4 linked regions of the Homo sapiens genome follow. The protein of the gene in region 1 purifies or fractionates together with the protein of each later gene. This does not show direct contact. Each region holds a gene or a part of one and is shown in the gene's direction. Other genes may lie near its edges. The genes, in order: PIANP, GALNT2, GALNT12 and GALNT4.

What was found.
Region 2: the proteins of PIANP (region 1) and GALNT2 purify together in Homo sapiens (affinity purification with mass spectrometry; 2 studies listed by BioGRID and IntAct, with this or other methods). This does not show direct contact.
Region 3: the proteins of PIANP (region 1) and GALNT12 purify together in Homo sapiens (affinity purification with mass spectrometry; 2 studies listed by BioGRID and IntAct, with this or other methods). This does not show direct contact.
Region 4: the proteins of PIANP (region 1) and GALNT4 purify together in Homo sapiens (affinity purification with mass spectrometry, with the first as the bait; 2 studies listed by BioGRID). This does not show direct contact.

Annotation. Positions count from the first base shown.
Region 1 is NC_000012.12:6,697,813-6,704,675, reverse strand, and holds the start of PIANP (PILR alpha-associated neural protein isoform b precursor), read left to right. Parts: upstream 1-3,860; 5' UTR 3,861-4,062; intron 4,063-4,260; exon of another isoform or gene 4,261-4,541; intron 4,542-6,571; 5' UTR 6,572-6,614; coding exon 6,615-6,631; intron 6,632-6,863. UniProt on the Homo sapiens protein: Acts as a ligand for PILRA in neural tissues, where it may be involved in immune regulation.
Region 2 is NC_000001.11:230,259,230-230,266,252, forward strand, and holds part of GALNT2 (polypeptide N-acetylgalactosaminyltransferase 2 precursor), read left to right. Parts: intron 1-248; exon of another isoform or gene 249-352; coding exon of another isoform or gene 353-534; intron 535-3,343; coding exon 3,344-3,436; intron 3,437-3,692; coding exon 3,693-3,776; intron 3,777-6,011; coding exon 6,012-6,138; intron 6,139-7,023. Other genes in the region: uncharacterized protein LOC124904542, read right to left, coding at 353-534. UniProt on the Homo sapiens protein: Catalyzes the initial reaction in O-linked oligosaccharide biosynthesis, the transfer of an N-acetyl-D-galactosamine residue to a serine or threonine residue on the protein receptor.
Region 3 is NC_000009.12:98,810,668-98,817,690, forward strand, and holds part of GALNT12 (polypeptide N-acetylgalactosaminyltransferase 12), read left to right. Parts: intron 1-158; exon of another isoform or gene 159-170; coding exon of another isoform or gene 171-206; intron 207-1,446; coding exon of another isoform or gene 1,447-1,529; intron 1,530-7,023. UniProt on the Homo sapiens protein: Catalyzes the initial reaction in O-linked oligosaccharide biosynthesis, the transfer of an N-acetyl-D-galactosamine residue to a serine or threonine residue on the protein receptor.
Region 4 is NC_000012.12:89,521,782-89,529,455, reverse strand, and holds the start of GALNT4 (polypeptide N-acetylgalactosaminyltransferase 4), read left to right. Parts: upstream 1-4,659; 5' UTR 4,660-4,906; coding exon 4,907-6,643; 3' UTR 6,644-7,674. Other genes in the region: POC1B-GALNT4 protein, read left to right, coding at 3,561-3,575, 4,252-4,336, 5,016-6,643; POC1B (POC1 centriolar protein homolog B), read left to right, coding at 3,561-3,575, 4,252-4,336; POC1B-DUSP6 readthrough, read left to right, coding at 3,561-3,575, 4,252-4,336. UniProt on the Homo sapiens protein: Catalyzes the initial reaction in O-linked oligosaccharide biosynthesis, the transfer of an N-acetyl-D-galactosamine residue to a serine or threonine residue on the protein receptor.

The DNA of each region.
Region 1 (6,863 bases):
TAAAAATGAGCCCAGAGATAGTGATGAAGATACCAGCAGAGCCAGAAACAGGACAAGGATGTATAGAGACTGTATAGAGACTGTAGAGTGTGGGTAGGTCCTCAAATTCATCTGAAGTCACATTTATCACTGCACTGTCTCCCTACCAGACTGTAAGCTCCACCAAGACAGTGATGACTTCATTCTTGCTCTCCGCTGTATCCCCAGCCATGGCACGGTACCTGGCGTGTCACACCATTTAAATGACCATATTTGTATGACCAGCCTGGACAACGTGGCAAAATCTCATCTCTGCCAAAAAAAAAAAACAAAAACAAAAAACAAAAAAAAACAACCACCACCACAAATTAGCCTGGCATGGTGGCACACACATGTAGTCCCAGATACTTGGGGGCTGAGGTGGGAGGATTGCTTGAGCCAGGAGGTCAAGGCTGCAGTGAGCCATGATTGTGCCACTACACTCCAGCCTGGGCAACAGAGTGAGACCCTGTTTCAAAAAAAAAAAAAATGTGGAAAGAATGAATGAATCAAGAATAATAGAAATAATTAATGACCCAAGGTCCTCAGTGTCAAAGGCACTTACACTGAACATGAATATTCACTTGATAAACTTGGTCCATGCCAGTGACATGAGTTCACCTGGAGCATATCCTCAGGATGCTCTGGGGCTTAAGGGGCCCAGGAGGTGGCAGGAGTTGCGCACCTGACTCACATGGCCCCTTGGCCGGGTTCACATCCAGTGTGCCTTGTCTTTCCCCCACCACTGGGAGACACTAGGAGGACGGCTCACTCGCTGCTGTTCTGACCTCAAATGAAGGGCTGTCAGGGACACGCAAGCAAGAGGGCAGCTGCTGCAGATGCTCGTCAGAACAGCAGGCTTCCTTCCTTTCACGAGGCAGGAGCGCCAGGCTGACAACGGGTCACAATGCAGCAAATGAAGGAGGAGGATCTGAAGGGGTGTGGACATGAGCAAGGGCTCAACCTGAAGCATTTGGCGTAGGGCAGAGATCAGTAGGGGGCAGGCAGCTAGAGAGGAATGGCTGGAGGACAGCAGAGGAGAGAATTAAAAGAGTTCAGAGTGGGCAGGGGTCCCAGAAGAAGTTCATTAAGTGGTACATGTTGAGCATCTACTACATTCCAAGGCACTGCAGTAGGAGTAGGGATACACGGTAAACAAGACAAATAAGATCTTGGCTCTCTAATGTATAGGGGGGCAGGAGAGAGCAGACAGTAAATAGTAAACACATATATGATCATTTCAGAAAGTGATGAGTCGGGCCAGGCGTGGCGGCTCACGCCTGTAATCCCAGCACTTTGGGAGGCCGAGGTGGGAGGATCACCTGAGGTCAGGAGTTCGAGACCAGCCTGGCCAACATGGTGAAACCCCGTCTCCACTAAAATTACAAAAATTAGCCAGGCATGGTGGTGTGCACCTGTAATCCCAGCTATTTGGGAGGCTGAGGCAGGAGAATCGCTTGAACCCAGGAGGCAGAGGTTGCGGTGAGCCAAGATTGCACCATCGCACTCCAGCCTGGGCTGCGAGAGCAAAACTCCATCTCAATAAATAAATAAACAAATAGAAAGTGATGAGTTGGAAAGACAATGAAACATAATGAGGAAACAGAGTGGGGGCCACTTTAGATTTTGAGCAGGGATGAAGGAGCCAACCAGGTGAAGATGGGGAGAGGGGTGGCAAAACATTCCAGGAAGAGGGAATCAAAAGTGGAGGGGCCGGGCGCAGTGGCTCACGCCTGTAATCTCAGAACTTCGTGAGGCCAAGGCTGGTGGATCATTTGAGGTCAGGAGTTCAAGACTAGCCTGGCCAACATGGTGAAACCCTGTCTCTACAAAAAATACAAAAATTAGCAGGGCACTAGTGGGCACTGCCAGAGGGGTGGGAGGGCTGGGAAGGCTGGAAGGGCCCCCCTGCATGCACACGCTAGCTACTTGGGAAGCTGAGGCAGGAGAATTGCTTGACCCTGGGAGGCGGAGGTTGCAGTAAACTGAGATCGTGCCATTGCACTCCAGCCTGGGCAACAGAGAGACACACTGTCTCGAGAAAAAAAAAAAGTGCAGGGATGCTAAGAGAATGACTTCTGATGTTACAGAACAGCAAGTAGTCTGATCCAGCAGGAGCACTGTGTATGAGGTGGGTACAGGCTGGTGGGCTTCTCCTTACAAGGAGTTCAGATTTATTCCAAGTGTAATGAAAAACCACTCGAATATTTTAAGCAGAGAAGAGCATGACATGCTTTTGATTTTTAAAATATTATCAATATAGGAAAAACTAGTTTGTAAAGACAAGGGCAGAAGCAGGGACCAGTGAGGAAGCTATTATGATAATCTGGATGAGACATGATGGCTTAGACCAAGACTATAGCAATAAAGATAGAAGGAGATGAATTCGGGATATATTTTGGACGCAGAGCCCACAGGACTTGTTGGTGAATTAGATACAGGGAGAGAATCAGTGAAAAAAAGGGGAAGGGAGGGATGTTTCCTAGATTTTTAGCCTGAACAACTAGTAGTTGTGAAGCCTCAGGATGGGGATCACTGGGAGAAAAATGGATTGGGGGTGGGGGAATTCAAGACATCTATTTTAGTCAAGTTAGCTTTGCATGGCTATTAGACATCCAAGTGGAGATGTCAAGTAGGCTGTCGGATAAATGAGTCTGGCGCTCTGGATATAAATTTAGGACTCACTGACATTTACATAGTATTTAAGCCCTGGGACCGGATGAGATCACTGGACAGAGAATGTGGAAAGAGAGAATGGCCAAGGACTAAGCCCTAGGAGGCTCCAACATTTAGAGGTCACCCGAGGAAGACTAAGAACAGTCAGTGAGGTTGGAGGGAAATGAGGAGAGTGTGGTGTCCTGGAAGTGCCCTGAGGAAAAACAGCGTAGTGTGGTAGAGAGGGATGGGATCCAGGTGGTGGGAGAAGGGGCAGGAGAGGCTACTTTTGATAGAGACATTAGGGAAGGCCTCCCAGAAGGCGTTGGATCTAAGTGAGACTGGAATGAAAACAGTAAGTCATTGTGAAAAGCCAGGGAAATGTATTACTGAGGGAACAGCAAGTGCAAAGGCCCTGAGGCAGGTTAAACCTGTCTCCAACCAGGAAATCCACCAGGTCCCATGTGGCTGAAGCATAGAAATCTTTAGGAAAGGCAATCAGAGAGCCACCTAAGAGCCAGGTTATATAGGGTCTTGTAAGTCACAGCACGGAGTCTAGGTATTCCAGTGCTGGAAAAGCCCAGGAATTTCGACGTGATCCACTTAATGCATGGTAGCAGGGCCAGAGTGAAATAGGGGATCAAGCTGTGGGGATAATCCAAAGATGGTGCAAGGTCCTTCCTCCCCAGTCCTTTCCTCCACCCCTTGCCCCCAGCCTTGACCTCAGGCACTTTCTACAGCGGGCAAAACCAAGTTGGGGGACAGGCAGTGGTGACTCACGCCTGTAATCCCAGCACTCCGGGAAGCTGAGCGGGAAGGATCGCTTGAGCCCAGGCGTTCGAGACCGGGCTGGGCAACACAGCGAGACCTCATCTCTACAAAACACAATACAAAAGAACAAAGTTGGGAATGCAGAGCATTGAGTGACTCAGAATCTCAGAAACTGACTGAGGCGACCATGGGTGTCCCTGGAGTTGGGGTGAAGGAGGTGGGGAGACTGCCATCAGAACCCAGGGAAGCGGACGGTCGCTGGACCCTGCCAGCCTCTTCAGCCCTCCACCTGGGACATAGCCTGGCTTGACTCCTGCAGCGCGGCAGCAGGAGGGTTAAACCGTGCGTGGCCTCCGGCGCGGGGGGGAGGCGGAGACGGAGACGGAGCGGTCCCAGCCGCCGCGCCGAGCCCAGCCGAGCCGAGCCGAGCCGAGCCGAGGCGAGCATCTCCCACCGCCGCCGCCCCGCGCCCCAGGCGCCCGCCCCCCACCCGCTCCAGCGCCCTGCCGCGGGCCAAACCTCCCCACCATGCCCCGCACCCCGCCCGCTCCTGCGACCCCCCAGCCCCGCTCAGTCCCGAGCGCCCGCAGTCGTCGCGCCGCCGCGCCAAGCATGCAGGTGAGTGAGAGGGACCCCCACGCCCCCACCCGCGGGGAGCCCGGCCCTGCCCTTCCCGGCTCCGCGCCCTGCGCCTCCTGCCCCTCCCGACGCGGTCCCTCGCCCGGGACAAGGCCTCCAGCCTCCCAGCGCCCCTTCCCCGAAGGGCTCTCCATCCCTCCGCGGTCCTGGCTCGCTCCCGCCCTCCCTGGCGCAGCCGTCCCCGTCCCCGCGGCTGCCTCCATCCCGCCTCGGCTCGGCGGGCGGCTCCGCGCAGTCTCCTGCTTCGGGTCCCCAGTCCGCTCTCGGCACTCCCTGCCTCGGGGTCCCTTCGCCGACCTCCTTTTCCTCGTCTCCCCCCACTCTCGCCGCTCTCCAGCCCTGTGCGGGGAGTGCGGGCCTGCGGGATGGGTGGGATGGGGGCCACGCTGGGGCTGGGGCCCGGCTCCCGCACCCCGAGGCTCCTGCCCCACCCCCAGCTCGTCTCCTGCGCACAACAGGTCGGTGAGAAGCTGGGAGAGGGGTGGGGGTGGCGCGCCAGCCCGGGGACTGCGGGCTTCCTGGAGGGGGCGGCTGAAGCTGTGCGGGGCCCAGGGACTGGGTTGGCGCTGGCTGGGGGTGGGGATGCACAGGCGGAGGGGCGATAGTCCTAGAGTCAGCTGGCCACAGATGCGCCCTGGGAGCCCTTCTCCGCTTCACTGGTTCGCTCTACACGCCTCGCTCCCTCCCTCTAGCTTTCTTCCTTTCCCCTCTCTCTCCCTTCTTCCCACCATGCCCCCATCCCTATGTCTTTCGGTATCTCCACATCCCTTTACATTTGGGGGAGCAATTCCGAACTCCTCCATCTTTGCTGCTCCCGCCTCTGCTTCCCAGCCCGTTCCTCGTGTCATTTTTCCTTAAGCATTTATGTTCTCTCCTTCCCCACTTCCTTTCTCCCCATCCTGGGCTTTCCCCCCTTTTCTCCCATCCCCTTACTCTCCACTCCTCTGGCTGTCCTGCCTGGACCGCTCTCTCCTTCTCCTCCTGCCCCTTCTTCCCCTGCACCTGTGACCCCTTCATCCTCTCCGTTTCCCCTCCCTGACCTTTTCTCTCATCCTTTCCTCCCTTCGGCATCCTCCACAGTTCGAGTCTTCTGTACCCACTCTCCTCCTCTCTTCCCAGTTCTCTCTTTTTCAGGACTGCCTGCTCTCTCTCACCCTGCACTCCAGGCCAGCTTCCTCTTCACATTTCTCCTCTCTCACTCTTAACCAGCCTTCCATCTCCCAGCCCTTCACCCCTTCCCATCTCTCCCACTGCCTGCTTCCCCACGCCCTTCCCGTGACTTTCCCATCTTGTTCCCTTGTTGTTCTCTGGGAAGATTCAATGGGCAGATTTATTTATTTTATTTTTTGAGTCGGAGTCTCGCTCTTGTTGCCCAGACTGGAGTGCAATGGTGTGATCTCAGCTCACTGCAACCTCCGCCTCCCAGGTTCAAGGGATTCTTCTGCCTCAGCCCTCTGAATAGCTGGGATTGCAGGCGCCCACCACTACCCCCGGCTAATTTTTGTATTTTTAGTAGACACGGGGTTTCACTATGTTGGCCAAGCTAGTCTCGAACTCCTGATCTCAGGTGATCCACCCGCCTTGGCTTCCCAAAGTGCTAGGATTACAGGCGTGAGCCACTGCGTCTGGCCCATTGGGCAGATTTAGACCCAGAATCCACAGGAAACGGGTATCCTATCTTCACTCCCTCTGGGGAGCCTGCCCCTCCTGGATCCACCACCCTCAGCTCTGAGAACACACCCTTTCTCTTTCAAAACCAACCATCCCGATTTTCCCAGGATTCTTTACCCAGGAGAGCCACATTTGAGGGGGTGGTTTCTTCCTGACTCCACCTCCCTTCAGAGGGCACCTATGCACTTGGATGATTAAACATTAAGAGCAAAAATTATATTCTGTAGTTTTTCTCCCACTCACCTCTCTCTTTCTGTCTCTTTCCTTCCATCCCTCCAGCTCTTCATTCCTTTCTCCTGAAGATGCAGACTCCTGGGGCTAATCATAAGACAAATGCCTGGCACTGCCAGAGGGGTGGGAGGGCTGGGAGGGCTGGAAGGGCCCCCCTGCACGTACACACACTCACTGGCTTGCTCAGATTGACTTCCCCATCCCTCCCCCTACCCTCAGACTCCCTCCCTAGCGGTAGGTGCTCAAGGAATCACAAGGTTCTTGGCTCTAAATTAAGATCCAAGAAAAGCCTGGAGCTGTGGGCAGAGGAAGTGAGAAGAAGGGAAATCAGAGAAGCCAGAGTAGACCCTGGGGTGGAGAGGTAACAGGGACCTGAGAAGTTGTAGATGGGGCTGGAGTCTGGTCAGGCAACCACGCTGGAGTTTTTCCCCCAAAAGGATGCTAACAACCAGTGAATCCTGGGTGCAGCCGCATAGCTGGCAGCTGGGTGGCCTGGGAGGGCAGATGCGGGTAGAATTGGTGGATGAATTAGCTGGGGAAGTACACAGGGCAGGGCTGGGGTGTGACGGCCCCCTTTTTCTCCCAGTAAAGGCTGAAAATCTGGGTCACAGCTGAGGAAGACCTCAGACATGGAGTCCAGGATGTGGTAAGTTTGGCCCAGCAGAGGGAGCCTGGAGACCACATTCCCTGGGGCCATGACTCCTTCCTTCCTAGACCCATCCAGAGCCTTCCCATCCTGAGGGCCATCCTCCTTTGGAAGATGGGAAATGAGGCGAGTCTTCCCAAGGCCCACCTGCTTTCACAGGGAAACCTGGAGGTTTCTGGTGTGAACCTGTCCCTCCCTCACATAGGCCCACAGTAGGCCTGTGTCTCAGCCA
Region 2 (7,023 bases), on another chromosome or scaffold:
CAGGATATGGAATATTTATATGTACTACCTAATGAGATATCTTGGGGCTGGGACCTAAGTCAAAGTACAAAATTTGTTTGTTTTATATAGACCTTATACACATAGCCTGAAGTTAATTTAATACAATACTTTTCATAATTTTCTGCATGAAACAAAGTTTGTGTACATTAAACCATCAGAAAGCAAAGGCGTCACTGTGACCGCCCACTGGATTCACCTTGCCCGCTGCCCAGATGGAGCTGACTTACCAAGATGGGAATTGCAATAGAGAAAGAGTTTAGTTCACACAGAGCTGGCTAAGTGGGAGACTGGAATTTTATTACTTAAGTCAATCTCCCCCAAAATTCAGAGGCTAGGGTTTTTCAAGGATAATCTGGAGGGAGCTGGGGACTAGGGAGTGGGTGCTGCTGATTGGATGAGGTGCAATCATAGGGGTGTGGAAAATGGTCCTTGTGCCTGCCGAGTCTGCTTCTGCATGGATGGGTCCACAGGACAAGCTGGAGATCTGGATGGAGTCATCAGAAGTGCAGAAGCCTGAAAAGACATTACAAAAGGCCAATCTTACGTTCTGCAATGGTGATGTTATCTGCAGGAGTAATTGGGGAAGTTGCAAATCTGTGGCTGATTTGTTAGTCCAACAAAGGCAGTCTGGTACCCAGACAAAAAGAGGGTTTGTTTGGGGAAAGGGCTGTTACCATCTTTGTTTTAAAGTTAAACTATAAACTAAGTTTCTCCCAAAGTTAGTTCTGCCTATGCCCAGGAGTGAACAAGGGCAGTTTAGACGTTAGAAGTTAGATGGAGTCAGTCAGGTCAGATGCCTTAAACTGTCAATTTTGTCATTGTTAAATTTTTTGCAAAGGCAGTTTCGTCACTATCTCATGTTGGTGCTCAAAAAGTTTTGGATGTTAGGACATTTTGGATTAGGGATGCCCAACTTGTAATAGATGACATTTAATATTTATTTAATACTTATTTAATACTACCTAAATACTTGCAAATACCTGCAAAAACAAGGAGGGCCTGGACAAAAGTGAGTCTCCCTCGGTGCCACTGTATCTGCAGCACTGAGACTGTTTGGTGTAGATACCAAATAAATACCTGAGTGAACCAATAAATAAATGAATAAAAGGAGCTAGCACTGAGTAGCACATGGAGATCATTCCTTGGGGCTGCCTAGTTATCCTTTTCTATTACAAAGACAGAAAAGAGTTGCTTTGCGTTTAGGAATTTTTAAGTGATTTAGTCACTTAAAAACTTGAGTGATTTGAAAACAGTATGACTGGAGTTGATAAAACCTTTAAATCATTAAGGCTGAAAGGAACCTAGGACATTCTGGAATCAAATCCTTTCATGTCCCTGTTGGGGAAATCCAGGTGCCAGATGTTACAAGTATTTAAGTTAATAACTGGTTAAAAACTGACTAGGCATAGGTTAAGGCATAGGTCACTTAGCAAAACCCCACTAACAATGTTTAGTGGCTCTTCTGAGAAATGATATGTATGATCCAGTATCCCCCAGCACTTTAAGTACTCATTGTTGTATCTGTATATTTTTTAATAGAGAGAAAGTAAAAATTCATCAGTCTCATCACCAAACCAGTTGTGCCATAACACTCTCATAATTTGATGAATTCGTCTGTCAGTATCTATTTCTGTCTCTCTCTCTTGTTTGCTCACTGGCTCTCCTTCTGCCTCTACACACATATCCACTATATGCAATTCTGCAAACTATTTTATTTTCCCACAAGTCCAGGACATCATTTCTGTCAACATGTAAGATGCACACTCATGTTTTTAGTGGTCACAGAATATTTCATTTGATTCCTTCCTCATATTTAGTCATAAAGTTTCTCTTTTTTTTTTTTTTTTTTGCTATTATAAACAAAGCAGAAGTGAGCATATTTTCACATGTATATTTCATTCCTAATTGATTGCTGCCTTGAGATAAATTTCTAGAAGTAGAGCTGCTGGGTCAGAGAATAGGTGCATTCATATGTTCTTATCTGTGTTGAATGGCATTATGGATAATAGTCCATATTCTACTTACTAAAATGAAAAAGTATATATATCACCTTATATGAAAGATATAGGCCCCATACAGAAATTATTTTAATAATGGTATCTCAGATCAGTTGAAAGTTTCGCCATTTTAAGGAATTATTTTAAAAGGCGAGCATTACCTCCTTACTGTATTTATTTTGGAAGAACACAGTGCCTTCCTATGGGGTTCTTAAGGAGGGCTAGCTATAGCCTGAAGTGGGAGTCCACCTTATAGCCGAGACCAGAATATGGGAGCAAAGAGGTTAGCTGTGTGCTTGCTACTTCATGGATGCTTTAAGATAATTCTTGGCAGAATACACTGCTGATACCTATGCAGATGATAGCTTTTAATGCATGTCAGACATTCAAGAGTAGCTTGTCCCAGGGGCTTTATTTATGGCAAATCATGGTTCTCTCTATGAGATTTAAGTACATGGTTTTCTTTCCTTCTAGAAAAGCCGGCTGGGCGCGGTGGCTCACGCCTGTAATCCCAGCACTTTGGGAAGCTGAGGCGAGTGGATCACAAGGTCAAGAGATCGAGACCATCCTGGCTAATGTGGTGAAACCGTCTCTACTAAAATTACACAAAAATTTTAGCTGGGTGTGGTGGTACATGCCTATAGTCCCAGCTGCTCAGGAAGCTCAGGCAGGAGAATCGCTTGAACCCGGGAGGCGGAGGTTTCAGTGAGCCGAGATCTCGCCACTGCACTCCAGCTTGGCAGCAGAGCGAGACTCCATCAAAAAAAAAAAAAGCTAGTGCAAACATGGCAGTCTTTCAGCTTAGCCCCGCAGAAAAGAAAGTGATTTTCCCAGGAACTCTTATCTTATGTAGTCTGAACTTTAATGCAGAGCTGTCTGATAGTGTCGTAGCCGTGACGGAGAAGGCCGTGGGGCCTGGAATCTCCTTGCTGTGCTCTGTGGCCCCGGCCCTCTGTGGACGCGTAATGTGAGAGTTTTTAAAGAGTAACTTTCTTTTGTCCTTCTTTAAGATATAGACCCCAGTCCCTCCTTTAAAATATTGGCTCGTGCTGTAATTTCCACTTTGCCTTTTGCCCTTTGACCATCTGTGTGACAAGAAAGCCATTCCAATGGTTCAGTAAGCACCCGCTGAGGCTGGCTCCCCACAGGTCCAGCTCGAGGTGCTGGTGGGGACAGCCCACCCTCTGCTGTGTGCCGTGATCCCAGCTGGAGCTGCTGCACACCCAGAGGGAGCCGCCTCAGTCACACGCCAGCAGACAGGTGCAAATGGAGTGATGCAGACAGAAAGAAAGGAAATCACACCTCAAGATTTATTTTCTTTCTAGAAACACCCGCCGGGCAGCAGAGGTCTGGATGGATGAATACAAAAATTTCTATTATGCAGCAGTGCCTTCTGCTAGAAACGTTCCTTATGGAAAGTAAGTGGCAGTTCTGCCTTCTCACAATTACTGGGGATTCTTGGGGTGTGGGGGTGGGAGGTAAGGGGCTGCCCCCAGCGTTGAATTCAGCTACCCAGGTGCCAAGGCGGGAAGGGGTTGTGGGCACAGGAGCATGGGCAGTCCACACCACACCACCTGCCCCAACCCTGTTCTCCTCAGCAGATTTTCAAGTTTGATGTAGAAAGCCCATCTATTCTTAAAATTTATAAAGGAATCTTATTTCCCTCTTCTCCAGTATTCAGAGCAGATTGGAGCTTAGGAAGAAACTCAGCTGCAAGCCTTTCAAATGGTACCTTGAAAATGTCTATCCAGAGTTAAGGTAAGTCCCCAGGGATCTGGGGTTTCACTTTGTAAGGGCTTAGAAGCCAGTAAGGCCATAGAAGCAGCAGAGGGGAAATGGAGGTGGGGCTGCAGGCATGAGATTGGGCACCTGGGCCCCAGTGAGAGCCTGTGGTCTCACTCCATGGTGTGGAGCTGAGAATCTGCTCCCAAGTTGGCCTGCTGCTGTCTCTGTCCTGCAGAGCTGCCCTCCCATGCTTCGGAGTCCCAGAGGCAGTCCCCCGGGCCTCACCTTGTTTTTGGCTTGTTCTCCATTGGCAAGGTGATGGGCTGGGTGACCTGAAGGACTGGTGTCTGACAGGCTCTTCGAGTGACCAGGAGCAGTCCCCAGCCTCCGCAAGCATGCAGTGTCTGCAGCCAGCCCTCGATCCCCCCGCCAGGCGCCTTTGCATGCCTCCGATCTGCTGCGCTCACCCTTGCTGCTCCTGTGGGCCAGCAGATAACAGCCCCCACGAGGCTCCCTCCTCCCAGCTAGGTTAATCACATGTGAAACGGAAGTAATAATGCTGCTGCCCCACGTCCCTCCGGAGGATTCATGGCAGAAACACCTTTCTGAGCATTATTTCCACACCCAGCCTCTTGTTTTAAGCGAATACGAGCTCCCCATCTGGAGGGACCTGCTGATAACCTCGTGAGAAGACCTATAGATCCGCTGGGGTGGAGGAGCCATCTGCACTTCATCTTCTTAAAGGGACTGTCAGGCAGGTCGTGCCTTAATGCGGCACATTCCTTATTCTAAATATTCCCAGAGCATTTTACAGCGGCTCACATATCTCCAGCACAGTGCCTGCGAACGCAAGACTTGCCACCATTATCTTTCCGCTAACAGCTCCTTCAGAGCCCTTGTCACGGAGATTTGTTGGACAGTTAGGTAATGCGGCCTCTCTCTGTTGCTCCTGTTCGCTCACTTGGCTCTTTGGAACCGTTTCCTCTGCTTTTCAAGTAACATGCCAGGCGCCAGGTGGCCCATGCCCCCTAGGAGGAGAACAGGAGAGAACACAGCGTCCTTCTCCCTCGGATCCCTGCCGTGCAGGACAGCTTTTGCTGGGGATTGAGAGCACCAGATGGTCACCAGCGATGGTCACCTGCAGCGGCAAGGGTGCACTGGTCACAGTTGCTGGTTGCAGGGCCCTGGTCTTCTTCCTGCCAGCTCTGTCCTCTCGGCCATGTGCACTCAACCCAAAAGAACCCATTCTGCCTCTGTGTCTGGCCCCAGAATATGATGTCTACACCTCCTGCCTGGTGTCCCTATACAACAGATTCTTGACTGTGGGCACTAAGGCGGCTGCTCATCAACTCTCCGTCAGCCAAAGAGGGGCTTCAATTCAGTGGATTTTAACCCAACCATGCCACTCACTTTGCTTTTTCAGTCACAGTTGACTGCCATTTCTCACAGAGGTCACCCATGGTTTGTAGTGACACTGGGCCCCGCACCCACTGAAGACCACATCTGAGGCACTGAGCACCATCCTGGCTGGCAAATCTGCTTCCCCTGTCTGTGGGGGGTGAGGGAGACATCAGCCTCGTGTTTTGTGTCTGTAATATCACCGCCGTTTACTGAGTGCCTCCTACGAGCCAGGCACTGGGCCGTGTGCTTTACACGAAATGTTCTATGTAACACTTGCAGCAGATCTGGGTAGCCCATAGCCTACCAAAGGGCAAATCGAGCTTCAGAGAAAGTGAGTCTTGCCTGAAAGCCAGCACCTGGCAGAGGTGGGCTGAGGTTTGGATCTGGTTCTGAAGCACGTTGTTCTTCCCCGTGGCTGTGGCTTTGTTCACATTAGACCACCTGACAAGTCTGCCCACCTTTCCCGTCTTTACTGGATAAAGGTCAGATCCTAAGTGTATTGGAAAGTTCAAGGCAACAGGATCTGACCACATTGATTTTCTAAATGACTTCCAATAAGACTAACATTGAAGAGTATCAGGAGCTTTTCCTTCCTTTCCAAAAAAAAAAAAAAAAAAAAATGACCTGATATAGAATATAAAGAATACTTCTGCAACATACAGTCTTAAAGTGTTGGAAGTCCAGAGCCTGGGAGAAATGCCGTGTCCCTGACACACACTACCTGTGGTAGGAAGAGGCACGATGCCTAGTCACTGGGTCTTTCTCTCGTTCCTGTCACCTGTCATGAGGCCACTGAGCAAAGGGGCTGGTGGACGGGAGCTGGTGGTCATGTGCAGTGAAGCAGGTGATTCTCACGTTGTTTTTCAGGGTTCCAGACCATCAGGATATAGCTTTTGGGGCCTTGCAGCAGGGAACTAACTGCCTCGACACTTTGGGACACTTTGCTGATGGTGTGGTTGGAGTTTATGAATGTCACAATGCTGGGGGAAACCAGGTATGTGCATGGGGAAGCCAGGTCACCTGCAGGCCCAGAGAGAGCAGGAGTTGGGGGGGTCCTGATGTTAGAAGTCCCAGCTGCCACCTTTCTCCTGGGATGGGTGATGTCTATGAGGAAGCACCTGGCTCCTGCTGGCCACAGCCTCTTTGGCAGCCAGCACCAGGGCCAGATAGAATGTCACACACTTTGGTGCATCAGCTCTGTCATCAGCTTCGGACCAGGCTCTGCTGCAGCGGCAAGGGTGCACTGGTCACAGTTGCTGGTTGCAGGGCCCTGGTCTTCCTGCCAGCTCTGTCCTCTCGGCCATGTGCACTCAACCGCAAAGCACCCATTCTGCCTCTGCGTCTGGCCCCAGAATATGATGTCTACACCTCCTGCCTGGTATGCCTATACAACAGATTCTTAACTGTGGGCACTAAGGCGGCTGCTAGTTATAGCCCCTGCCTGTTAGATAATAGCTTAAGATAGAAGATACTCAGTATTAATTGCTTCCATTGCACACATACACACCTTTTCTGAGAGGCATAAAAATGCACAACCGCCAGGCGCCGTGGCGCACGCCTGTAATCCCAACACTTTGGGAGGCTGTGGTGGGTGGATCACCTAAGGTCAGGAGTTCAAGACCAGCCTGGCCGACATGGTGAAACCCATCTCTGCTAAAAATAAAAAAAAAATTAGCCAAGCGTGGTGGCGGGCACCTGTAATCCCAGCTACCCGAGAGGCTGAGGCAGGAGAATTGCCTGAACCCGGGAGGCAGAGGTTGCTGTGAGCTGAGATCACACCATTGCATTCCAGCCCAGGCTACAAGAGCAAAGCTCTGTCTCAAAAAACAAACAAACAAACAAACAGAAAAACCCACTACCTTCTCTTCTCCCATCATTG
Region 3 (7,023 bases), on another chromosome or scaffold:
GTCTGCCTTCTTGAAGAAGGCCAGACCACTAAAAAGACATTTTAGAGTACTGGTCCTAATTCTGTGAGAGCCAGTATAGACCTGGGCCCCTCTATGAATCTAATAATTTACATGCCAGTGGATTCGAGTATAGTTTTGTTAGTTACAGCACTGAATTGAAGAGGAGGCTAATGATGACTAGGAATCCTTCCTTGCATGGTAACATAGTAAGTATTAATATATATTAATATAAATAAGTATAGTAAGTAAGTCAGTAAGCATAGTAGTATAGTATGACTAGCATCTCAGCAAAGAAGGTGAATTTTTACTCTGAGATGATAGCGGGTCAAAGTGGGGAGACAGATAGTTGGGTGTGTGGCCCTGGGGAACTTTAAAAAATATATTGATGCCAGGAATCTTCCCCAAAACAATGAAATCAGAATATCTGTGGCTAGGACCTAGGCTGAATCTGATATGCAACCACGGGTGAAAGCTACTGGCCTAGAGCCTGTGGATTTCTGAGTCAGAAGATTTAGGGTGAGTGTTTTGGAGGGTGTGGAGAATACCAGAACTAGAGAAAGTAAGGATTAATAACAGGTCAAATGTAGTTCAAGCCAGTGATGACATCATAGTCAACTGAGTGGTGTGTCACAAGGAAATGGTTATTAGTAATGTTGTACCAAAATTTGCAAAAAGTTTTAGTTTCCATAGAATACGGGGAACTTGAGATGATCACTGTAACATCATTCTCATTTGCATTCTGATATTTAGTAGAAGAGAGAGTGGAGTAACAGACAGTGCCCTCAGGGCTGGACATTTCTTCAGGTCTATCTATGACAGGAATCCCATATGTGTGAACACCAGCCATTCTCTACCAGGGCAGAAGAACTGTGAACCATTGGTCAAGGAAAGCATGGTGTTTTTATTTCTTGACTTGCTCTGGTTTTAGGCTTGTTAATACTATAATTGCAGATGTGTGTCTGAGTTCAGGGGTCAGGATTTGGGTGCTGGGATGGCAAAGAGTCTCGAAGTCGTTCTTTTTTTTTTTTTTTTTGAGATGGAGTCTTGCTATGTTGCCCAGGCTGGAGTACAATGGTGCGATCTTGGCTCACTGCAACCTCCACCTCCTGGGTTCAAGCCATTCTCCTGCCTCAGCCTCCCGAGTAGCTGGGATTATAGGCAAGCGCCACCACACCCAGCTAATTTTTGTATTTTTAGTAGACACGGGGTTTCACTATGTTGGCCAGGCTGGTCTCAGACTCCTGACCTCAGGAGATCTGCCCGTGTTGGCCTCCCAAAGTGCTGGGATTATAGGCGTGAGCCACCATGCCCAGCCTCAAAGTGGTTCTAAACAGGTAATTAAGCAAAAGTATGTCTTGCTAGGGTTGCAGAAGGGAGTAGGACATTAGACTGATGTTTATTTTGTTTCCCCAACAAAGTTGTGGATATTTTATGAATTCTTATTAGATCCATCTTGAGAACATCAGAGTGGCATTCTTTCTTGAGTCAGTACTCCAGTACTTCAAATCCACAGAACATGTTCAATTTCGGTTAGTATTTTCCTGATACCTTTTTCTTTCACTCATTCTGTGTCCATATGTTTTTGGTGTGTCTTTGAATAGTATGTTGCTCGATTTTGTGTTGTCATTAAAAAAAAATCCAGGCCAGGAGTGGTGGCTCACGCCTATAATCTCAACACTTTGGAAGGCCGAGGTGGGTGGATCACTTGAGGTCAGGAGTTCGAGATTAGCCTGGCCAACATGGTGAAAACCTGTCTGTACTAAAAATAGAAAAATTAGCTGGGCGTGGTGGTGGGTGTCTGTAGTCCCAGCTACTTGGGAGGCTGAGGCAGGAGAATTACTTGAACCCAGGAGGCTGGAGGTTGCAGTGAGCCAAGATTGCACCACTGTACTCCAGCCTGGGCGACAGAACAAGACTCCATTTAAAAAGAAAAATCCAAACTGACAATCATTAACTTTTAACAAGATAGTTATATCCACTTACATTTATTGTGCTTACTGATGCTTTTGGATTTGATAGTGCTGTCTTATTTTATGTTTTCATTTGTTATGCTTTTTTGGTGTTTTCCCCCTCTTTTTTCCTACTGCTTTTTGAGTCGATAGAGGCTTTTCCCCTCATTCCATTTTTTTCCTCTCTACTAATTTAGTAGTTATATTATCTATTTCTAACCTTAGTGGTAAATTTTAAAGTACATATTTAACTCAACAAAGTCTAAAATTAAATATTAACTATGGACCATAGAATGCTTTAGTATTGATCATCTTCTCTCCTAATTTGTATGCCATTTTGCTCCAATATTTTAATTCTGTCTTGCTTTTAAACCAACAAATTAGAATAGCTAAAAATGCAGTATTTATTTGTTCAGATTTATCCACAAGTTTACCATTTTCTCTGCTCACTATTCTTTCCTGAGTCAGAGACCTTTCTGGGATTCTTCTCCTTCTTCCTGAAATACATCATGTATTAATTGCTGTAGAGAGGTCTATTGTTAGTCCTCAGTTTTCTTTATCTGAAAATGTTTTTATTTTGCTCTTGTTCATGAAAGTTTTGCTGGGTATATAATTCTACATTGGTAGTTTGACATTTGAAGGTATTATTCCCTTGTCATCTGGTTTGCACCATTGCTATGAGATGCCTACAGTGACCCAGATCTCTCTGTCATTCTTGTTTCTTTGTCATTCATTTGAGGTCTTCTTTTATTTAAGCATATTAAGCATACTTATTTTATACTCTATGTCTGGTAATTATGTTATCTAGATTAGTGTTTTCTTGTTGTTCCTTCATGAAGAAGACTTCTTTTACTTTCCTGTCGGCTAAGCCATCCATTTAAAAAATTTTTTTTTTTTTGAGATGGAGTTTTGCTCTTGTTGCCCAGGCTGGAGTGCAATGGTGCGATCTCAGCTCACTGCAACCTCCACCTCCTGGGTTCAAGTGATTCTTCTGCCTCAGCTTCTCCCTAGTAGCTGGGATTATAGGCGCCTGCCACCATGCCCTGCTAATTTTTGTATTTTTAGTAGAAACGGGGTTTCACCATGTTGGTCAGGCTGGTCTTGAACTCCTGACCTTAGGTGATCCACCTACCTTGGCCTCTCAAAGTGCTGGGATTACGGGTGTGAGCCACAGCGCCCAGCCAAGAGATTTAAAAAAAAAAAACTTTTTATCAAGATTTTTTGGGTGTATATACCAGGAGTGTTTCCCTAGACATCTTAGTCTTCCATGTTGCCAGAAGTAGAAGTCCTATATTCACTTTTTAAAAATAATTATTTTCTACACTAGACAGGATTCTTTTGGTTAAAAGTAACTGAAAGCCCAATGCAAACTGCCTTAAATATAAAAGAAAATATATTGGGTTCTATTATAGAAAAGTCTGGGATGAGAACTGAGTTCAGGTTATTCTGGGCCCTGGATTCAGGGACTCAATTGATGTCATCACGAAATTATTGATTGGTCAGGCCTGAGGCATGTAACCTTCCCAGGGGTAGGGGTGTGTGTCTGTGTGTCTCTGTGTGTATATGCATGTGCTTGTGTATGTTCAGCCCTCCACAAACCACATAGACTGAGAATTGGAAAAGGTTGGCTCTTGAAAGGGAAATCAAGATGCAGTGTACAGTGAAGAAAGGAGAAAGGATTCTAGGCAGGTAAGACACAAAAATGTACATCACGATCTCCTTGGCCTTTTCTACAGAGGATATGATTTGATTTTTTTTAAAAGACATTTATGTGATAACCTTAATATAAAGATAAAAGAAGATCAGGAGGGGCTGGGTGCAGTGGGTCATGCCTGTAATCCCAGAACTTTAGGAGGCCAAGGAGGGCGGATCACTTGAGGTCAGGAGTTCGAGACCAGCCCTGTCCAAAATGGCGAAACCACGTCTTTACTAAAAATACAAAAATTAGCCAGGCATGGTGGCGGACACCTGTAATCCCAGCTACTTGGGAGGCTGAGGCAGGAGAATTGCCTGAACCTGGGAGGCAGAGGTGGCAGTGAGCCAAGATCCCACCACTGCACTCCAGCCTGGGTGAAAAAAAAAAAAAGGAAGATCAAGAGGCATTTACTGTATCCATTAATTCATTCATATCCATATAATAAGTAAATATTCTACCAGCAGAGATTATTGTAGTCCCTACCCAGTAGGGTTGTTAGGAAGGCTACATGAAGTAATGTGTATAAAATGCTTATATGGTGCCTCTCCTGTATTAAGCACTCAACAAATGGTACTGTTACTACCAGGTAAAGTACAAGGCGTGCTGAAAATACAGAGACAAACACAGCTCAGTCTCTGCCCTTACAAAGCACATGCAATATACCAGAAACTTAGGGAAATGATTGTGTGCTGTGATGTAGCATTAAATCCAGTTCTGAGCTTCCTTTTGTCCTCAAGGCAAAAGTGGAACCTTAAAGTGATCCATAGCTGTCTTTGTATGATCAAAAGATGCACAGCTTTTTATTAGTCAGGAAAAGGAGAAAGTGTTTTTTTCTGGAAGCAAACTTAAAGACATTTCAAAAAGATATACAGACGATCTCCGATTTAAGATCGTTTGACTTAAGATTTTTCAACTCTATCATAGTACCCATTGCAACCAACCTGGTTTTCACTTTTGGTACATATTTGGTAAATTATATGAGGTATCCAATACTTTATTATACAGTAGATTTGTGTTAGATGATTTTGCCCAACTATAGACTAATGGAAGTGTTCTGAGCACATTTAAGATAGACTAGGCTAGGCTGTGGTGTTCAGTAGGTTAGGTGTATTAAATGCATTTTCTACTTAGAATGTTTTCAACTTACGATGAGTTTATTGGGATGTAACCCCACCGTAAGTCAAGGGGCATTGGTATTGAACCTCATAAAACAGAATGCCTTTAGGAGATGTTTTCAAAAAAGAAACAGAAACTATACCAGGACAAGAAAAAGAGAAAGGGCAGAGTATTAAATTATTGCTCAATGAAGGCATTTGCTGTGAGGAACTAAAGAAATATGATCTAATCTTTTAAAAATAATATTTCTTTGTGATTATAAAAATTATAGATGTTCATTTTAGGACAATTTTAGAATGCACAAAAATATAAAAAGTAAGAATCAGCAATAATCTCACTTCTTAGAGATCACCATTGATAACATTTTGGCATATTTCTTTCTATTGTTTATTGTTTATGCGTGAACGCGCTCACATACACGTTGTTGTTTCTAGAATTGGCTATCTGTAGATTTCTATCCTGCCTTTTTGATTTAACATTATAGTGTGACCATTCTCCTTTATCATTAAATATTCTCTAAAAAATGTTATTTTGTTGTTTTACGTGGTGCCTCTCATGTAGTAAACACTCAACAAAGGGTACTGTTATTACCAGGTAAAGTACAAGGCGTGCTGAAAATACATGGCCATGATTTCCTCATGCAGCCATACTATACTATATTTTCTTCTTGTTCGACATTGAAATTGTTTGCAGCTTTTTGCTATTATAAATAATGTTACAAAGAAAAATTTTTACAACAAGCCTCCTTCAGGGTATTCTGACTATTTACTTAGGCAAGAAATGTTTATGTATGTTGATATGAGATCAAAGAAAAGAGGAACATTTTAAAGCTCTGAATATTAATTGAAAAATTGGCACCCAGCCTTCTTGTGATTTAGATGGCACAAATGAAGAGCCCACCTAGACATTCTAGAATGGTGGCCCTAGGCTATTGGTTTTAGTGGAAACACATTAAAAAAAGAAAAAAAAAAAAAAAGCAGGGCTGACAAGAGAAGAAATAAATTTTCATCCAAAATACTAAGGATGTGATTTCAGACTAAAGGATTGTTCTCTACATTGAATGCACCTCACTTTGAAAACCTCACTTCACCGTCCTTATTGTCAATTATTTCTCTTGAACTTGTGCATGTTTGAAACAAAGTTTTAGCAGCATCTTAAGAAAAAATATTTATTTTAGGTTTCACAGAAACACTTTTGTTTTTCATGTAGTGTAAGCAATTAACTTTTTTTTTTTTTTTTTGAGTCAGGATCTGGCTCTGTCACCCAGGCTGGAGTGCAATGGCGCCATCTCAGCTCACTGCCACCCCCGCCTCCCTGACTCAAACCATCCTTCCACCTCAGCCTCCTGAGTAGCTGGGACTACAGGTGTGTGCCACCATGTCCAGCTAATTTTTTTTTTTTTTTTTTTTTTTGAGACACAGTCTTGCTCTGTTGCCCAGGCTGGAGTGCAGTGGCCCCTGATCTCGGCTCACTGCAAGCTCTGCCTTCCGGGTTCATGCCATTCTCCTGCCTCAGCCTCCCAAGTAGCTGGGACTACAGGCACCAGCCACCACGCCTGGCTAATTTTTTGTATTTTTTTAGTAGAGACGGGGTTTCACCTTGTTAGCCAGGATGGTCTTGATCTCCTGACCTCGTGATTCACCCGCCTCGGCCTCCCGAAGTGCTGGGATTACAGGCGTGGGCCACTGTGCCCAGCCCAGCTAATTTTTGTATTTTTGGTAGAGACAGGTTTTTGCCATGTTGCCCAGGCTGATCTCCAACTCCTGGGCTCAAGCGATCCTCCCACCTTGGCCTCTCAAAATGCTGGGATTACAGGTGTGAGCTACCGCGCCTAGCCTCGCGGTTAATTCTTTCTGAGGCTCCTGGTGAGCTACAACTCAACACAATCTAGCTTTTCTATGCATCTTGTCTAGTATTCAGGGGCTTAATAATGAAGACGCAGTTATTAATATTTTTATAATACACACACATATGTTTTCCATTTGCTATAACATGTATTTGTTGGAGGGGGGATGTTTCTTTTTGTTTTTTTGTTTTGTTTTGTTTGTTTTTGAGATGGAGTTTTGCTCTTGTTGCCCAGGCTGGAGTGCAATGGCGCGATCTTGGCTCACTGCAACCTCCGCCTCCCAGGTTCAAGTGATTCTCCTGCCTCAGCCTCCGGAGTAGCTGGGACTACAGGTGCCCACCACCACGTTCTGCTAATTTTTGTATTTTTAGTAGAGACGGGGTTTCACTATGTTGGTCAGGCTGGTCTAGAACTCC
Region 4 (7,674 bases), about 83 Mb from region 1:
TTCATTTTGTAAAACTTATTATTATAAACCTTGGCAAGAATGCAATGTTTTATACATTTACATAACACTTGCAATCACACAAAAGTCATGACAGTGATTAAGAGAGTGGATTCTGGGCCAGGTGAGGTGGCTCACACCTGTAATCCCAGCACTTTGGGAGGCCGAGACAGGCGGATCACGAGGTTAGGATATTGAGACCATCCTGGCTAACACGGTGAAAACCAGTCTCTATTAAAAAAAAAATACAAAAAAAATTAGCCGGGCTTGGTGGCGGGCGCCTGTAGTCCCAGCTGCTCGGGAGGCTGAGGCAGGGGAATGGCGTGAACCTGGGAGGCGGAGCAGCTTGCAGTGAGCCGAGATCGCGCCACTGCATTCCAGTCTGGGCGACAGAGTGAGACTCCGTCTCAAAAAAAAAAAAAAAAAAGAGAGAGTGGATTCTGGAGGCAGACTGCGAGTGTCTAAAAATCTCAACTCTGCCACTTCCTAGTTAGCAGTGTGCCTTGGGCAAGTAACTTAATGTCTTTGCATATCAATTTACTCATCTATAAAACGGAAATGGTAATAATAGCACATCTCTAATAAGATCGTTATGATCACTAAATGTCAAAATTTGTAAGGTACTTAGAAAAGTCCTGGCATGTAGTGAAAACATAGGTAGGTATATTAGTCCGTTCTCACATTGCTATGAAGAACTACCTGCGACTGGGTAATTTACAAAAAAAGCGGGTTTAATTGGCTCATGGTTCTGCAGGCTGTACAGGAAGTATGGCTGGGGAGGCCACAGGAAACTTACAAACATGGTGGAAGGCAAAGGGGAAGAGAGCATGGCTGCTCCATGGCTGGAGCAGGAGGAAGAGAGCAAAGGGGGAAGTGCTACACACTTTTAAACAACCAGATCTCGTGATAACTCACTCAGAACAGCAAGGGAGAAATCCACCCCCATGATCCAATCACCTCCCACCAGCCCCCTCCTCCAACACTGGGGATTACAATTCTACATGACAGTTGGGTGGGGACACAAATCCAAACCATATCAGTAGGTGACAAATTTTTTAAGATCAACTTTAGGTAATAGGATTAATATGTAGTTTCCCTCCCATCTTTTAAATTTAAAACATGTGTTTCTTGATAATTGAGAAAAAAAGTAAAAGCTAAACTTTTACTAAAACACTTAAATAAAAATCTATATTTTTTCTTCTTGTGAGCTAGTTTCTAAATCTCCAACTTCTTCCCTTTTCTGCTTCTCCTGTGCCCAATATTAGACGTAACATACCTATGAGTAATCCTGAGGTCCTGATTACTCTTCAGCTTCTGGCATTATTATTTTATTATTGGGGTGAAATACCTGTAATGAAATTTACCATTTTACCCATTTTTTAGGTGTACAATTCACTGGCATTAAGTACATTCACAATGTTGTGCAAACATCACCACTATCTATTTCCAGAACTTCATCATCCCAAACAGAAACTCTGCACCCATTAAACAGTAACTCCCCAGTCTCCCTTACCCCCAGCCCTAGTAACCTCTATTCTACTTTCTGTCCTTATGAATTCACCTATTCTAGGTACCTCATATGAATGGAATCATACAATATATGCTCATTTGTGTTTGGCTTATTCACTTAGCAAAATGTTTTCAAGGTTCATCCATGTTATAGCTTGTATCACAATTTCATTTCTTTTTATGGCAGGATAATATTTCCTTATATGTATATATCACATACATTTTGTTTATCCATTCATCTGTTGGATACTAGGATTGTATCCACTTTTTGGCTATTGTAAATAATGCTTGCTTTGAACACTGGCATCTGTTGGAGTCTCTGCTTTCAATACTTATGGGATATACCTAGCAGTGAAATTGCTGGATTATAAGGTAATTGTATGTTTAACTTTTTAGGAACTGACAAACTTTTTCACAGAGCTACATCATTTTACATTCCCACCAGTATCCAGCATTAGTTTTAAACATGGCAGGCTTTTAAAATAAATCAAGCCTAAACTGGTAATATGTAGCAAAACTAAGAGTCCTGCAACAGTTTGCTGACAAGTTGCTGATATCAACACTCTTAACATATCATCTCCTAGACTAATGCAGTGTTTCTCAACATAGACAGCTGAGACTCCCATAGTAATCATCTATGGAGCTTGTTACATCAGAAGGGCCCTGGATCCCACCTTGTATATGTTGATTCAGCATCTCTGGAAATGGAGCCCCCAAATCAACATTACAAATGCTAAAGCATGAGACTCACCAACCCTAGATTGCTGAGTTCTTGAAGGTAGGGGAAATATCTTAGTCATCATTGTGTCCCTCAAGGCCAAACATACAACAGATATTTAACAAGTGTATACTTAAATTAACTAATACTGTAATCTAAAGCCTACCTGTTTAGTTGTTAAGTACCATATTCAATAAAATTAAACTCAATCACTAGACAACTAGGGAATCTGTAATTAAGGTGTGTAGCATACCTTTCATTTGCATAAAACACATGTCTTACCAGCTGTGTTCTATCATGCCCTTTGATGTTGCTAAGGATCTTTACACTATATGTAATTTTCAGCTCAGAACATCACGCTTTGAGGCAGGGTTAAAAAAAAAAAAAGGATATGGACTTGGAATTAGAAGAACTGTCTCTGTGTGACCTCTAAGACCAATATCTAGGAATCAAGTTTATAACTTGGAAACATTGAAAACATTTTGTAATTCTACCAACTTCATTGTTTGGCTGAAGCACAAATGATACTATGTGTAACAAAGCCTGCTGTAGAAACGTGGTCTCACAAAAAACAAACAAAAAAAACCATGTTTCCAAGTCTTCCTAAAGACTTTAAGTATCCAGCTGTGTAAGTTTAGTGCTCTAAGGTATACGCAAATAAGCAGATGAGAATGGAAACATATCGCAGAAAATTATTAAGTGCATGCACAACATTTATTCATTCATTCACTCATTCATTCATCACGCACATCCAGCAACTATATCAATATCCTGCAGGGCACTGTGTGGAAAACAGTGGTTAAATAAATTCAAATCTGCCCTCAGGGGATTTAGTTCCTTTTAGTATATTAATAACTAGCAAGCTGCCCCTCTTCATGTCAAAGCTTTACGTCAACAAAATAAGCGGTAGGGGATCACCTTAAACGTCACGGGTGCTGTCTCTTTAAAACGTAATAGAACTCTGATCGCATCGATCACAGGCTCACAACGCCCTTCCATTCATCGCTCTTATTCCAGTCCTGGTTACTACCCCACTTCCTGACATCAAACCAGGGAGAACGCGAGTGTTAGTTAACATGGCTTGGTGTGTGGCCACAGCTGACCCGGCGCATACCTCCCGTCCTCTCTTTACAGGGCTGGCGGTGTCTCGGGGCTCGGCTGGCCATGCCTGGAGCGCGGGGTTTGACTGGGCCGCCGTTGTTGTAGTGACCGGGAGGCGCTGCCGCTCTGGGCAGACGGTTCCGGGAGCCGCACGGTCCCCTCTCCTTCCCCATCCTCTCCCCTCCCCTCTCCGGGTTCCCCCACCCACAGGAGCCTTGGGCCGACCACTCCCCCGATGGCCTCAGCCACGGTAAGGACGGGTTGGAGGTGGGGGGGGTCCCTCCCTGGAGCCTGTCCCGCGGGCTGCGGGGCCAGGTCCGGGCCGAAGCCGCACCTGGAGGGAGATGGAGGCAGGTGTCCGTAGCCGGGTCCTGAGCCCCTCGTCCCGGGGCGTCCGTATCTCACTCTCTGCCATCGGGGCGGACGGAGTGCGGAACCCAGACCCGGCTCCCGGACGCTCTTCCCCGAGTTCCGGAGCTCCGGACTGAGCTGGGCGGCCCCACGGCCCCCAGAATTCTCGGAGGGTTTCCGTGGAGCGCCTGCGTCAGAATCACCTAGGAAGTATTAAAAAAAAAAAAAGTACCAAAGCCGAGGCGCATCCTCGCACCTGCCTGCCTTGGGCCAGCGGGCGGGGCCCGGGAACGTGCATTTCAAAGGGGCCGCGGTTCCTGCGATGCGCTGGACTCTGGGAAGCGCGAACAGAGCGTTTTGCGGGCTCTGCGGGGAGAGCTGGCGCCGGCGTCTCCCTGTAGCAGGACTGGGCGCCGCGCCCGTGGGTGGGCTGCTGCCCGGCCCCGCCGCCCAGCCAAGCCGCCGCCTGGGTGGCCATTCCCAAGCCGGACTCCGGGGAAGTGGCAGCGTGGATCCCAGCCGCCAGAATTCGAGGTCTGCGGCGGCTTTCAAAACTTGACAACTTTCCTTTCCAGGAGGACCCCGTTCTGGAGCGTTATTTCAAAGGCCACAAAGCTGCGATCACCTCCTTGGACCTCAGCCCCAACGGCAAGCAACTTGGTAAGTCTTATTCTTGTTTTGCTTTTGTAATGAGACTAAACTCCATGGGCCGGAAACCTTTCCTCCTGTCCGGGCAGGGTCCCTAGGAGAACGGCTAAGGGCCTGTATGAGGGTTGAGAGCACCCGGAGACGAGGGCCCAGCGCGGCGGGGCGCAGCTAGGGCCCCCTCTGCCATCCCGGCCCCCAGCCCCCGGCCCGGCCAAGAGCCTCCTATCCAGCGGTCTGGGCCTGGCGGACGACTTTCGCAAACTAACCACCAGGAGGAGTGAGTGGGAAGGGGAGGGGTTTCTCCTCGGCCCGGGGAGGGTGGGGTGTTGGCTGGAGAGTTTGTGAAAAGTTGTGAGCCGAGCAGGAGGAAGTAGGGAGAGAGGAGTTGGGCTGTGCCGGAGGCCGAGGACCGAGAGGGCTCAGGTGACCCCTGGAAAGCCTGGGTGGCTGGAAAGGAGCCTAGCGCCTGCATGAAAGGAAGAACCTGCTGGGAAGTACCTGAGCTCGAGCTGTGGGTTCCGCCGCCCTTCCCCTGCGTGGTGGCTTGGTGGCCGCGTCTGCGCCTCAGCCCTGAGAATCCGGATGGCGGTGAGGTGGACTTGGGCAGGCAAGAGCTGCCTGCTGCTGGCGTTTTTAACAGTGGCCTATATCTTCGTGGAGCTCTTGGTCTCTACTTTTCATGCCTCCGCAGGAGCCGGCCGTGCCAGGGAGCTGGGGTCAAGAAGGCTCTCAGACCTCCAGAAAAATACGGAGGATTTGTCTCGACCGCTTTATAAGAAGCCCCCTGCAGATTCCCGTGCACTTGGGGAGTGGGGGAAAGCCAGCAAACTCCAGCTCAACGAGGATGAACTGAAGCAGCAAGAAGAACTCATTGAGAGATACGCCATCAATATTTACCTCAGTGACAGGATTTCCCTGCATCGACACATAGAGGATAAAAGAATGTATGAGTGTAAGTCCCAGAAGTTCAACTATAGGACACTTCCTACCACCTCTGTTATCATTGCTTTCTATAACGAAGCCTGGTCGACTTTGCTCCGTACCATTCACAGTGTTTTAGAAACTTCTCCTGCAGTTCTTTTGAAAGAGATCATCTTGGTGGATGACTTGAGTGACAGAGTTTATTTGAAGACACAACTTGAAACTTACATCAGCAATCTTGATAGAGTACGCTTGATTAGGACCAATAAGCGAGAGGGGCTGGTTAGGGCCCGTCTGATTGGGGCCACTTTCGCCACTGGGGACGTCCTCACTTTCCTGGATTGTCACTGTGAGTGTAATTCCGGTTGGCTGGAACCGCTTTTGGAAAGGATTGGGAGAGATGAAACAGCAGTTGTGTGTCCTGTTATAGACACAATTGATTGGAATACTTTTGAATTCTATATGCAGATAGGGGAGCCCATGATTGGTGGGTTTGACTGGCGTTTAACATTTCAGTGGCATTCTGTCCCCAAACAGGAAAGGGACAGGCGGATATCAAGAATTGACCCCATCAGATCACCTACCATGGCTGGAGGACTGTTTGCTGTCAGCAAGAAATATTTTCAGTACCTTGGAACGTATGACACAGGAATGGAAGTGTGGGGAGGTGAAAACCTTGAGCTGTCTTTTAGGGTGTGGCAGTGTGGTGGCAAATTGGAGATCCACCCGTGTTCCCACGTGGGCCATGTGTTCCCCAAGCGGGCACCATATGCTCGCCCCAATTTCCTACAGAATACTGCTCGGGCAGCAGAAGTTTGGATGGATGAATACAAAGAGCACTTCTACAATAGAAACCCTCCAGCAAGAAAAGAAGCTTATGGTGATATTTCTGAAAGAAAATTACTACGAGAGCGGTTGAGATGCAAGAGCTTTGACTGGTATTTGAAAAACGTTTTTCCTAATTTACATGTTCCAGAGGATAGACCAGGCTGGCATGGGGCTATTCGCAGTAGAGGGATCTCGTCTGAATGTTTAGATTATAATTCTCCTGACAACAACCCCACAGGTGCTAACCTTTCACTGTTTGGATGCCATGGTCAAGGAGGCAATCAATTCTTTGAATATACTTCAAACAAAGAAATAAGGTTTAATTCTGTGACAGAGTTATGTGCAGAGGTACCTGAGCAAAAAAATTATGTGGGAATGCAAAATTGTCCCAAAGATGGGTTCCCTGTACCAGCAAACATTATTTGGCATTTTAAAGAAGATGGAACTATTTTTCACCCACACTCAGGACTGTGTCTTAGTGCTTATCGGACACCGGAGGGCCGACCTGATGTACAAATGAGAACTTGTGATGCTCTAGATAAAAATCAAATTTGGAGTTTTGAGAAATAGAGCACAACAGCACTTTCGTCATGAGCTGACAGTAGTGTCAAGAAAGTCAAAGAGCCTTAAGAGCCTCAGTGAAGATTGTATTTTATTTTATCAAAAGCCACCTAGCAGTCATCTGTGGAGCACTGGAAAGCTGGGGTTCATTTTGGTATATCACACTGAAACTGGGTACCCAGAGTGCTGCTGTTTAATATTTCACAATGCCTTACTTATTGGTTGTTTTATATAAGAGTTTTGTCAATATGGTCTCTTCTTAAAAGAAGTTGACTATGAATTGAAACACACAAAACATTTAAGTGCCAGACTTAATATTAAAGAATGTAAAGGTCCAAGTAAAATGAGGTATGATTTATGTTGATGTGTAAGTTCACCGCACATCCCACTTTTTAACAAAACTCATGAATGTGCAGTTTGAGCCATTGCTATTTTGATTACATAGAATTTGTATTTCTTTTTTAGCCAGCACATTAAATTTTAGATTTTATTTTTTAATCTAATTTTTTTCTAATCAAAAAGAAAATTGAGCTTAAGGCAAAAGGCCTGGTTTTAGAGATATGTGTAATTGGAAGAGGGCATTTGTTTGAGTGTGAGTTTGGAGGCCTTTTTAACATGCAGACATACCCATATTTAAATGAAATGGGGAGATATTTACATTCCGTACTTTGTAAACTTGAGCTATTGGACTTCACTGATGTATATATTAATACCTCAGATTCCTCTGATTTTGTAAGCTGTCTTCTCTGTGAACGTGTTTGTGTGTGTAGGGCATTTTCTGATTGCACTTCCTTAAGTTATGAATGTACTAGAAAGGGACTCATCCAGAATACTATGCCTCCCTTTGTTAATGCTTAATCATTTAAAGTAAACACAATTGAAGCCTCTCTGAAGTTAAACCCAACTATGTTTATTAAAATGTGTGAAACTGAAAGTGGGCTAGGTTCTACCAAGGCTGTGGAACTCTCCTACGAGTTCTGCTGATCAGGAAATTTAAGAATTTATCTTAAAAATGCAAGGAAAAAAGACTGCCTTGGCAA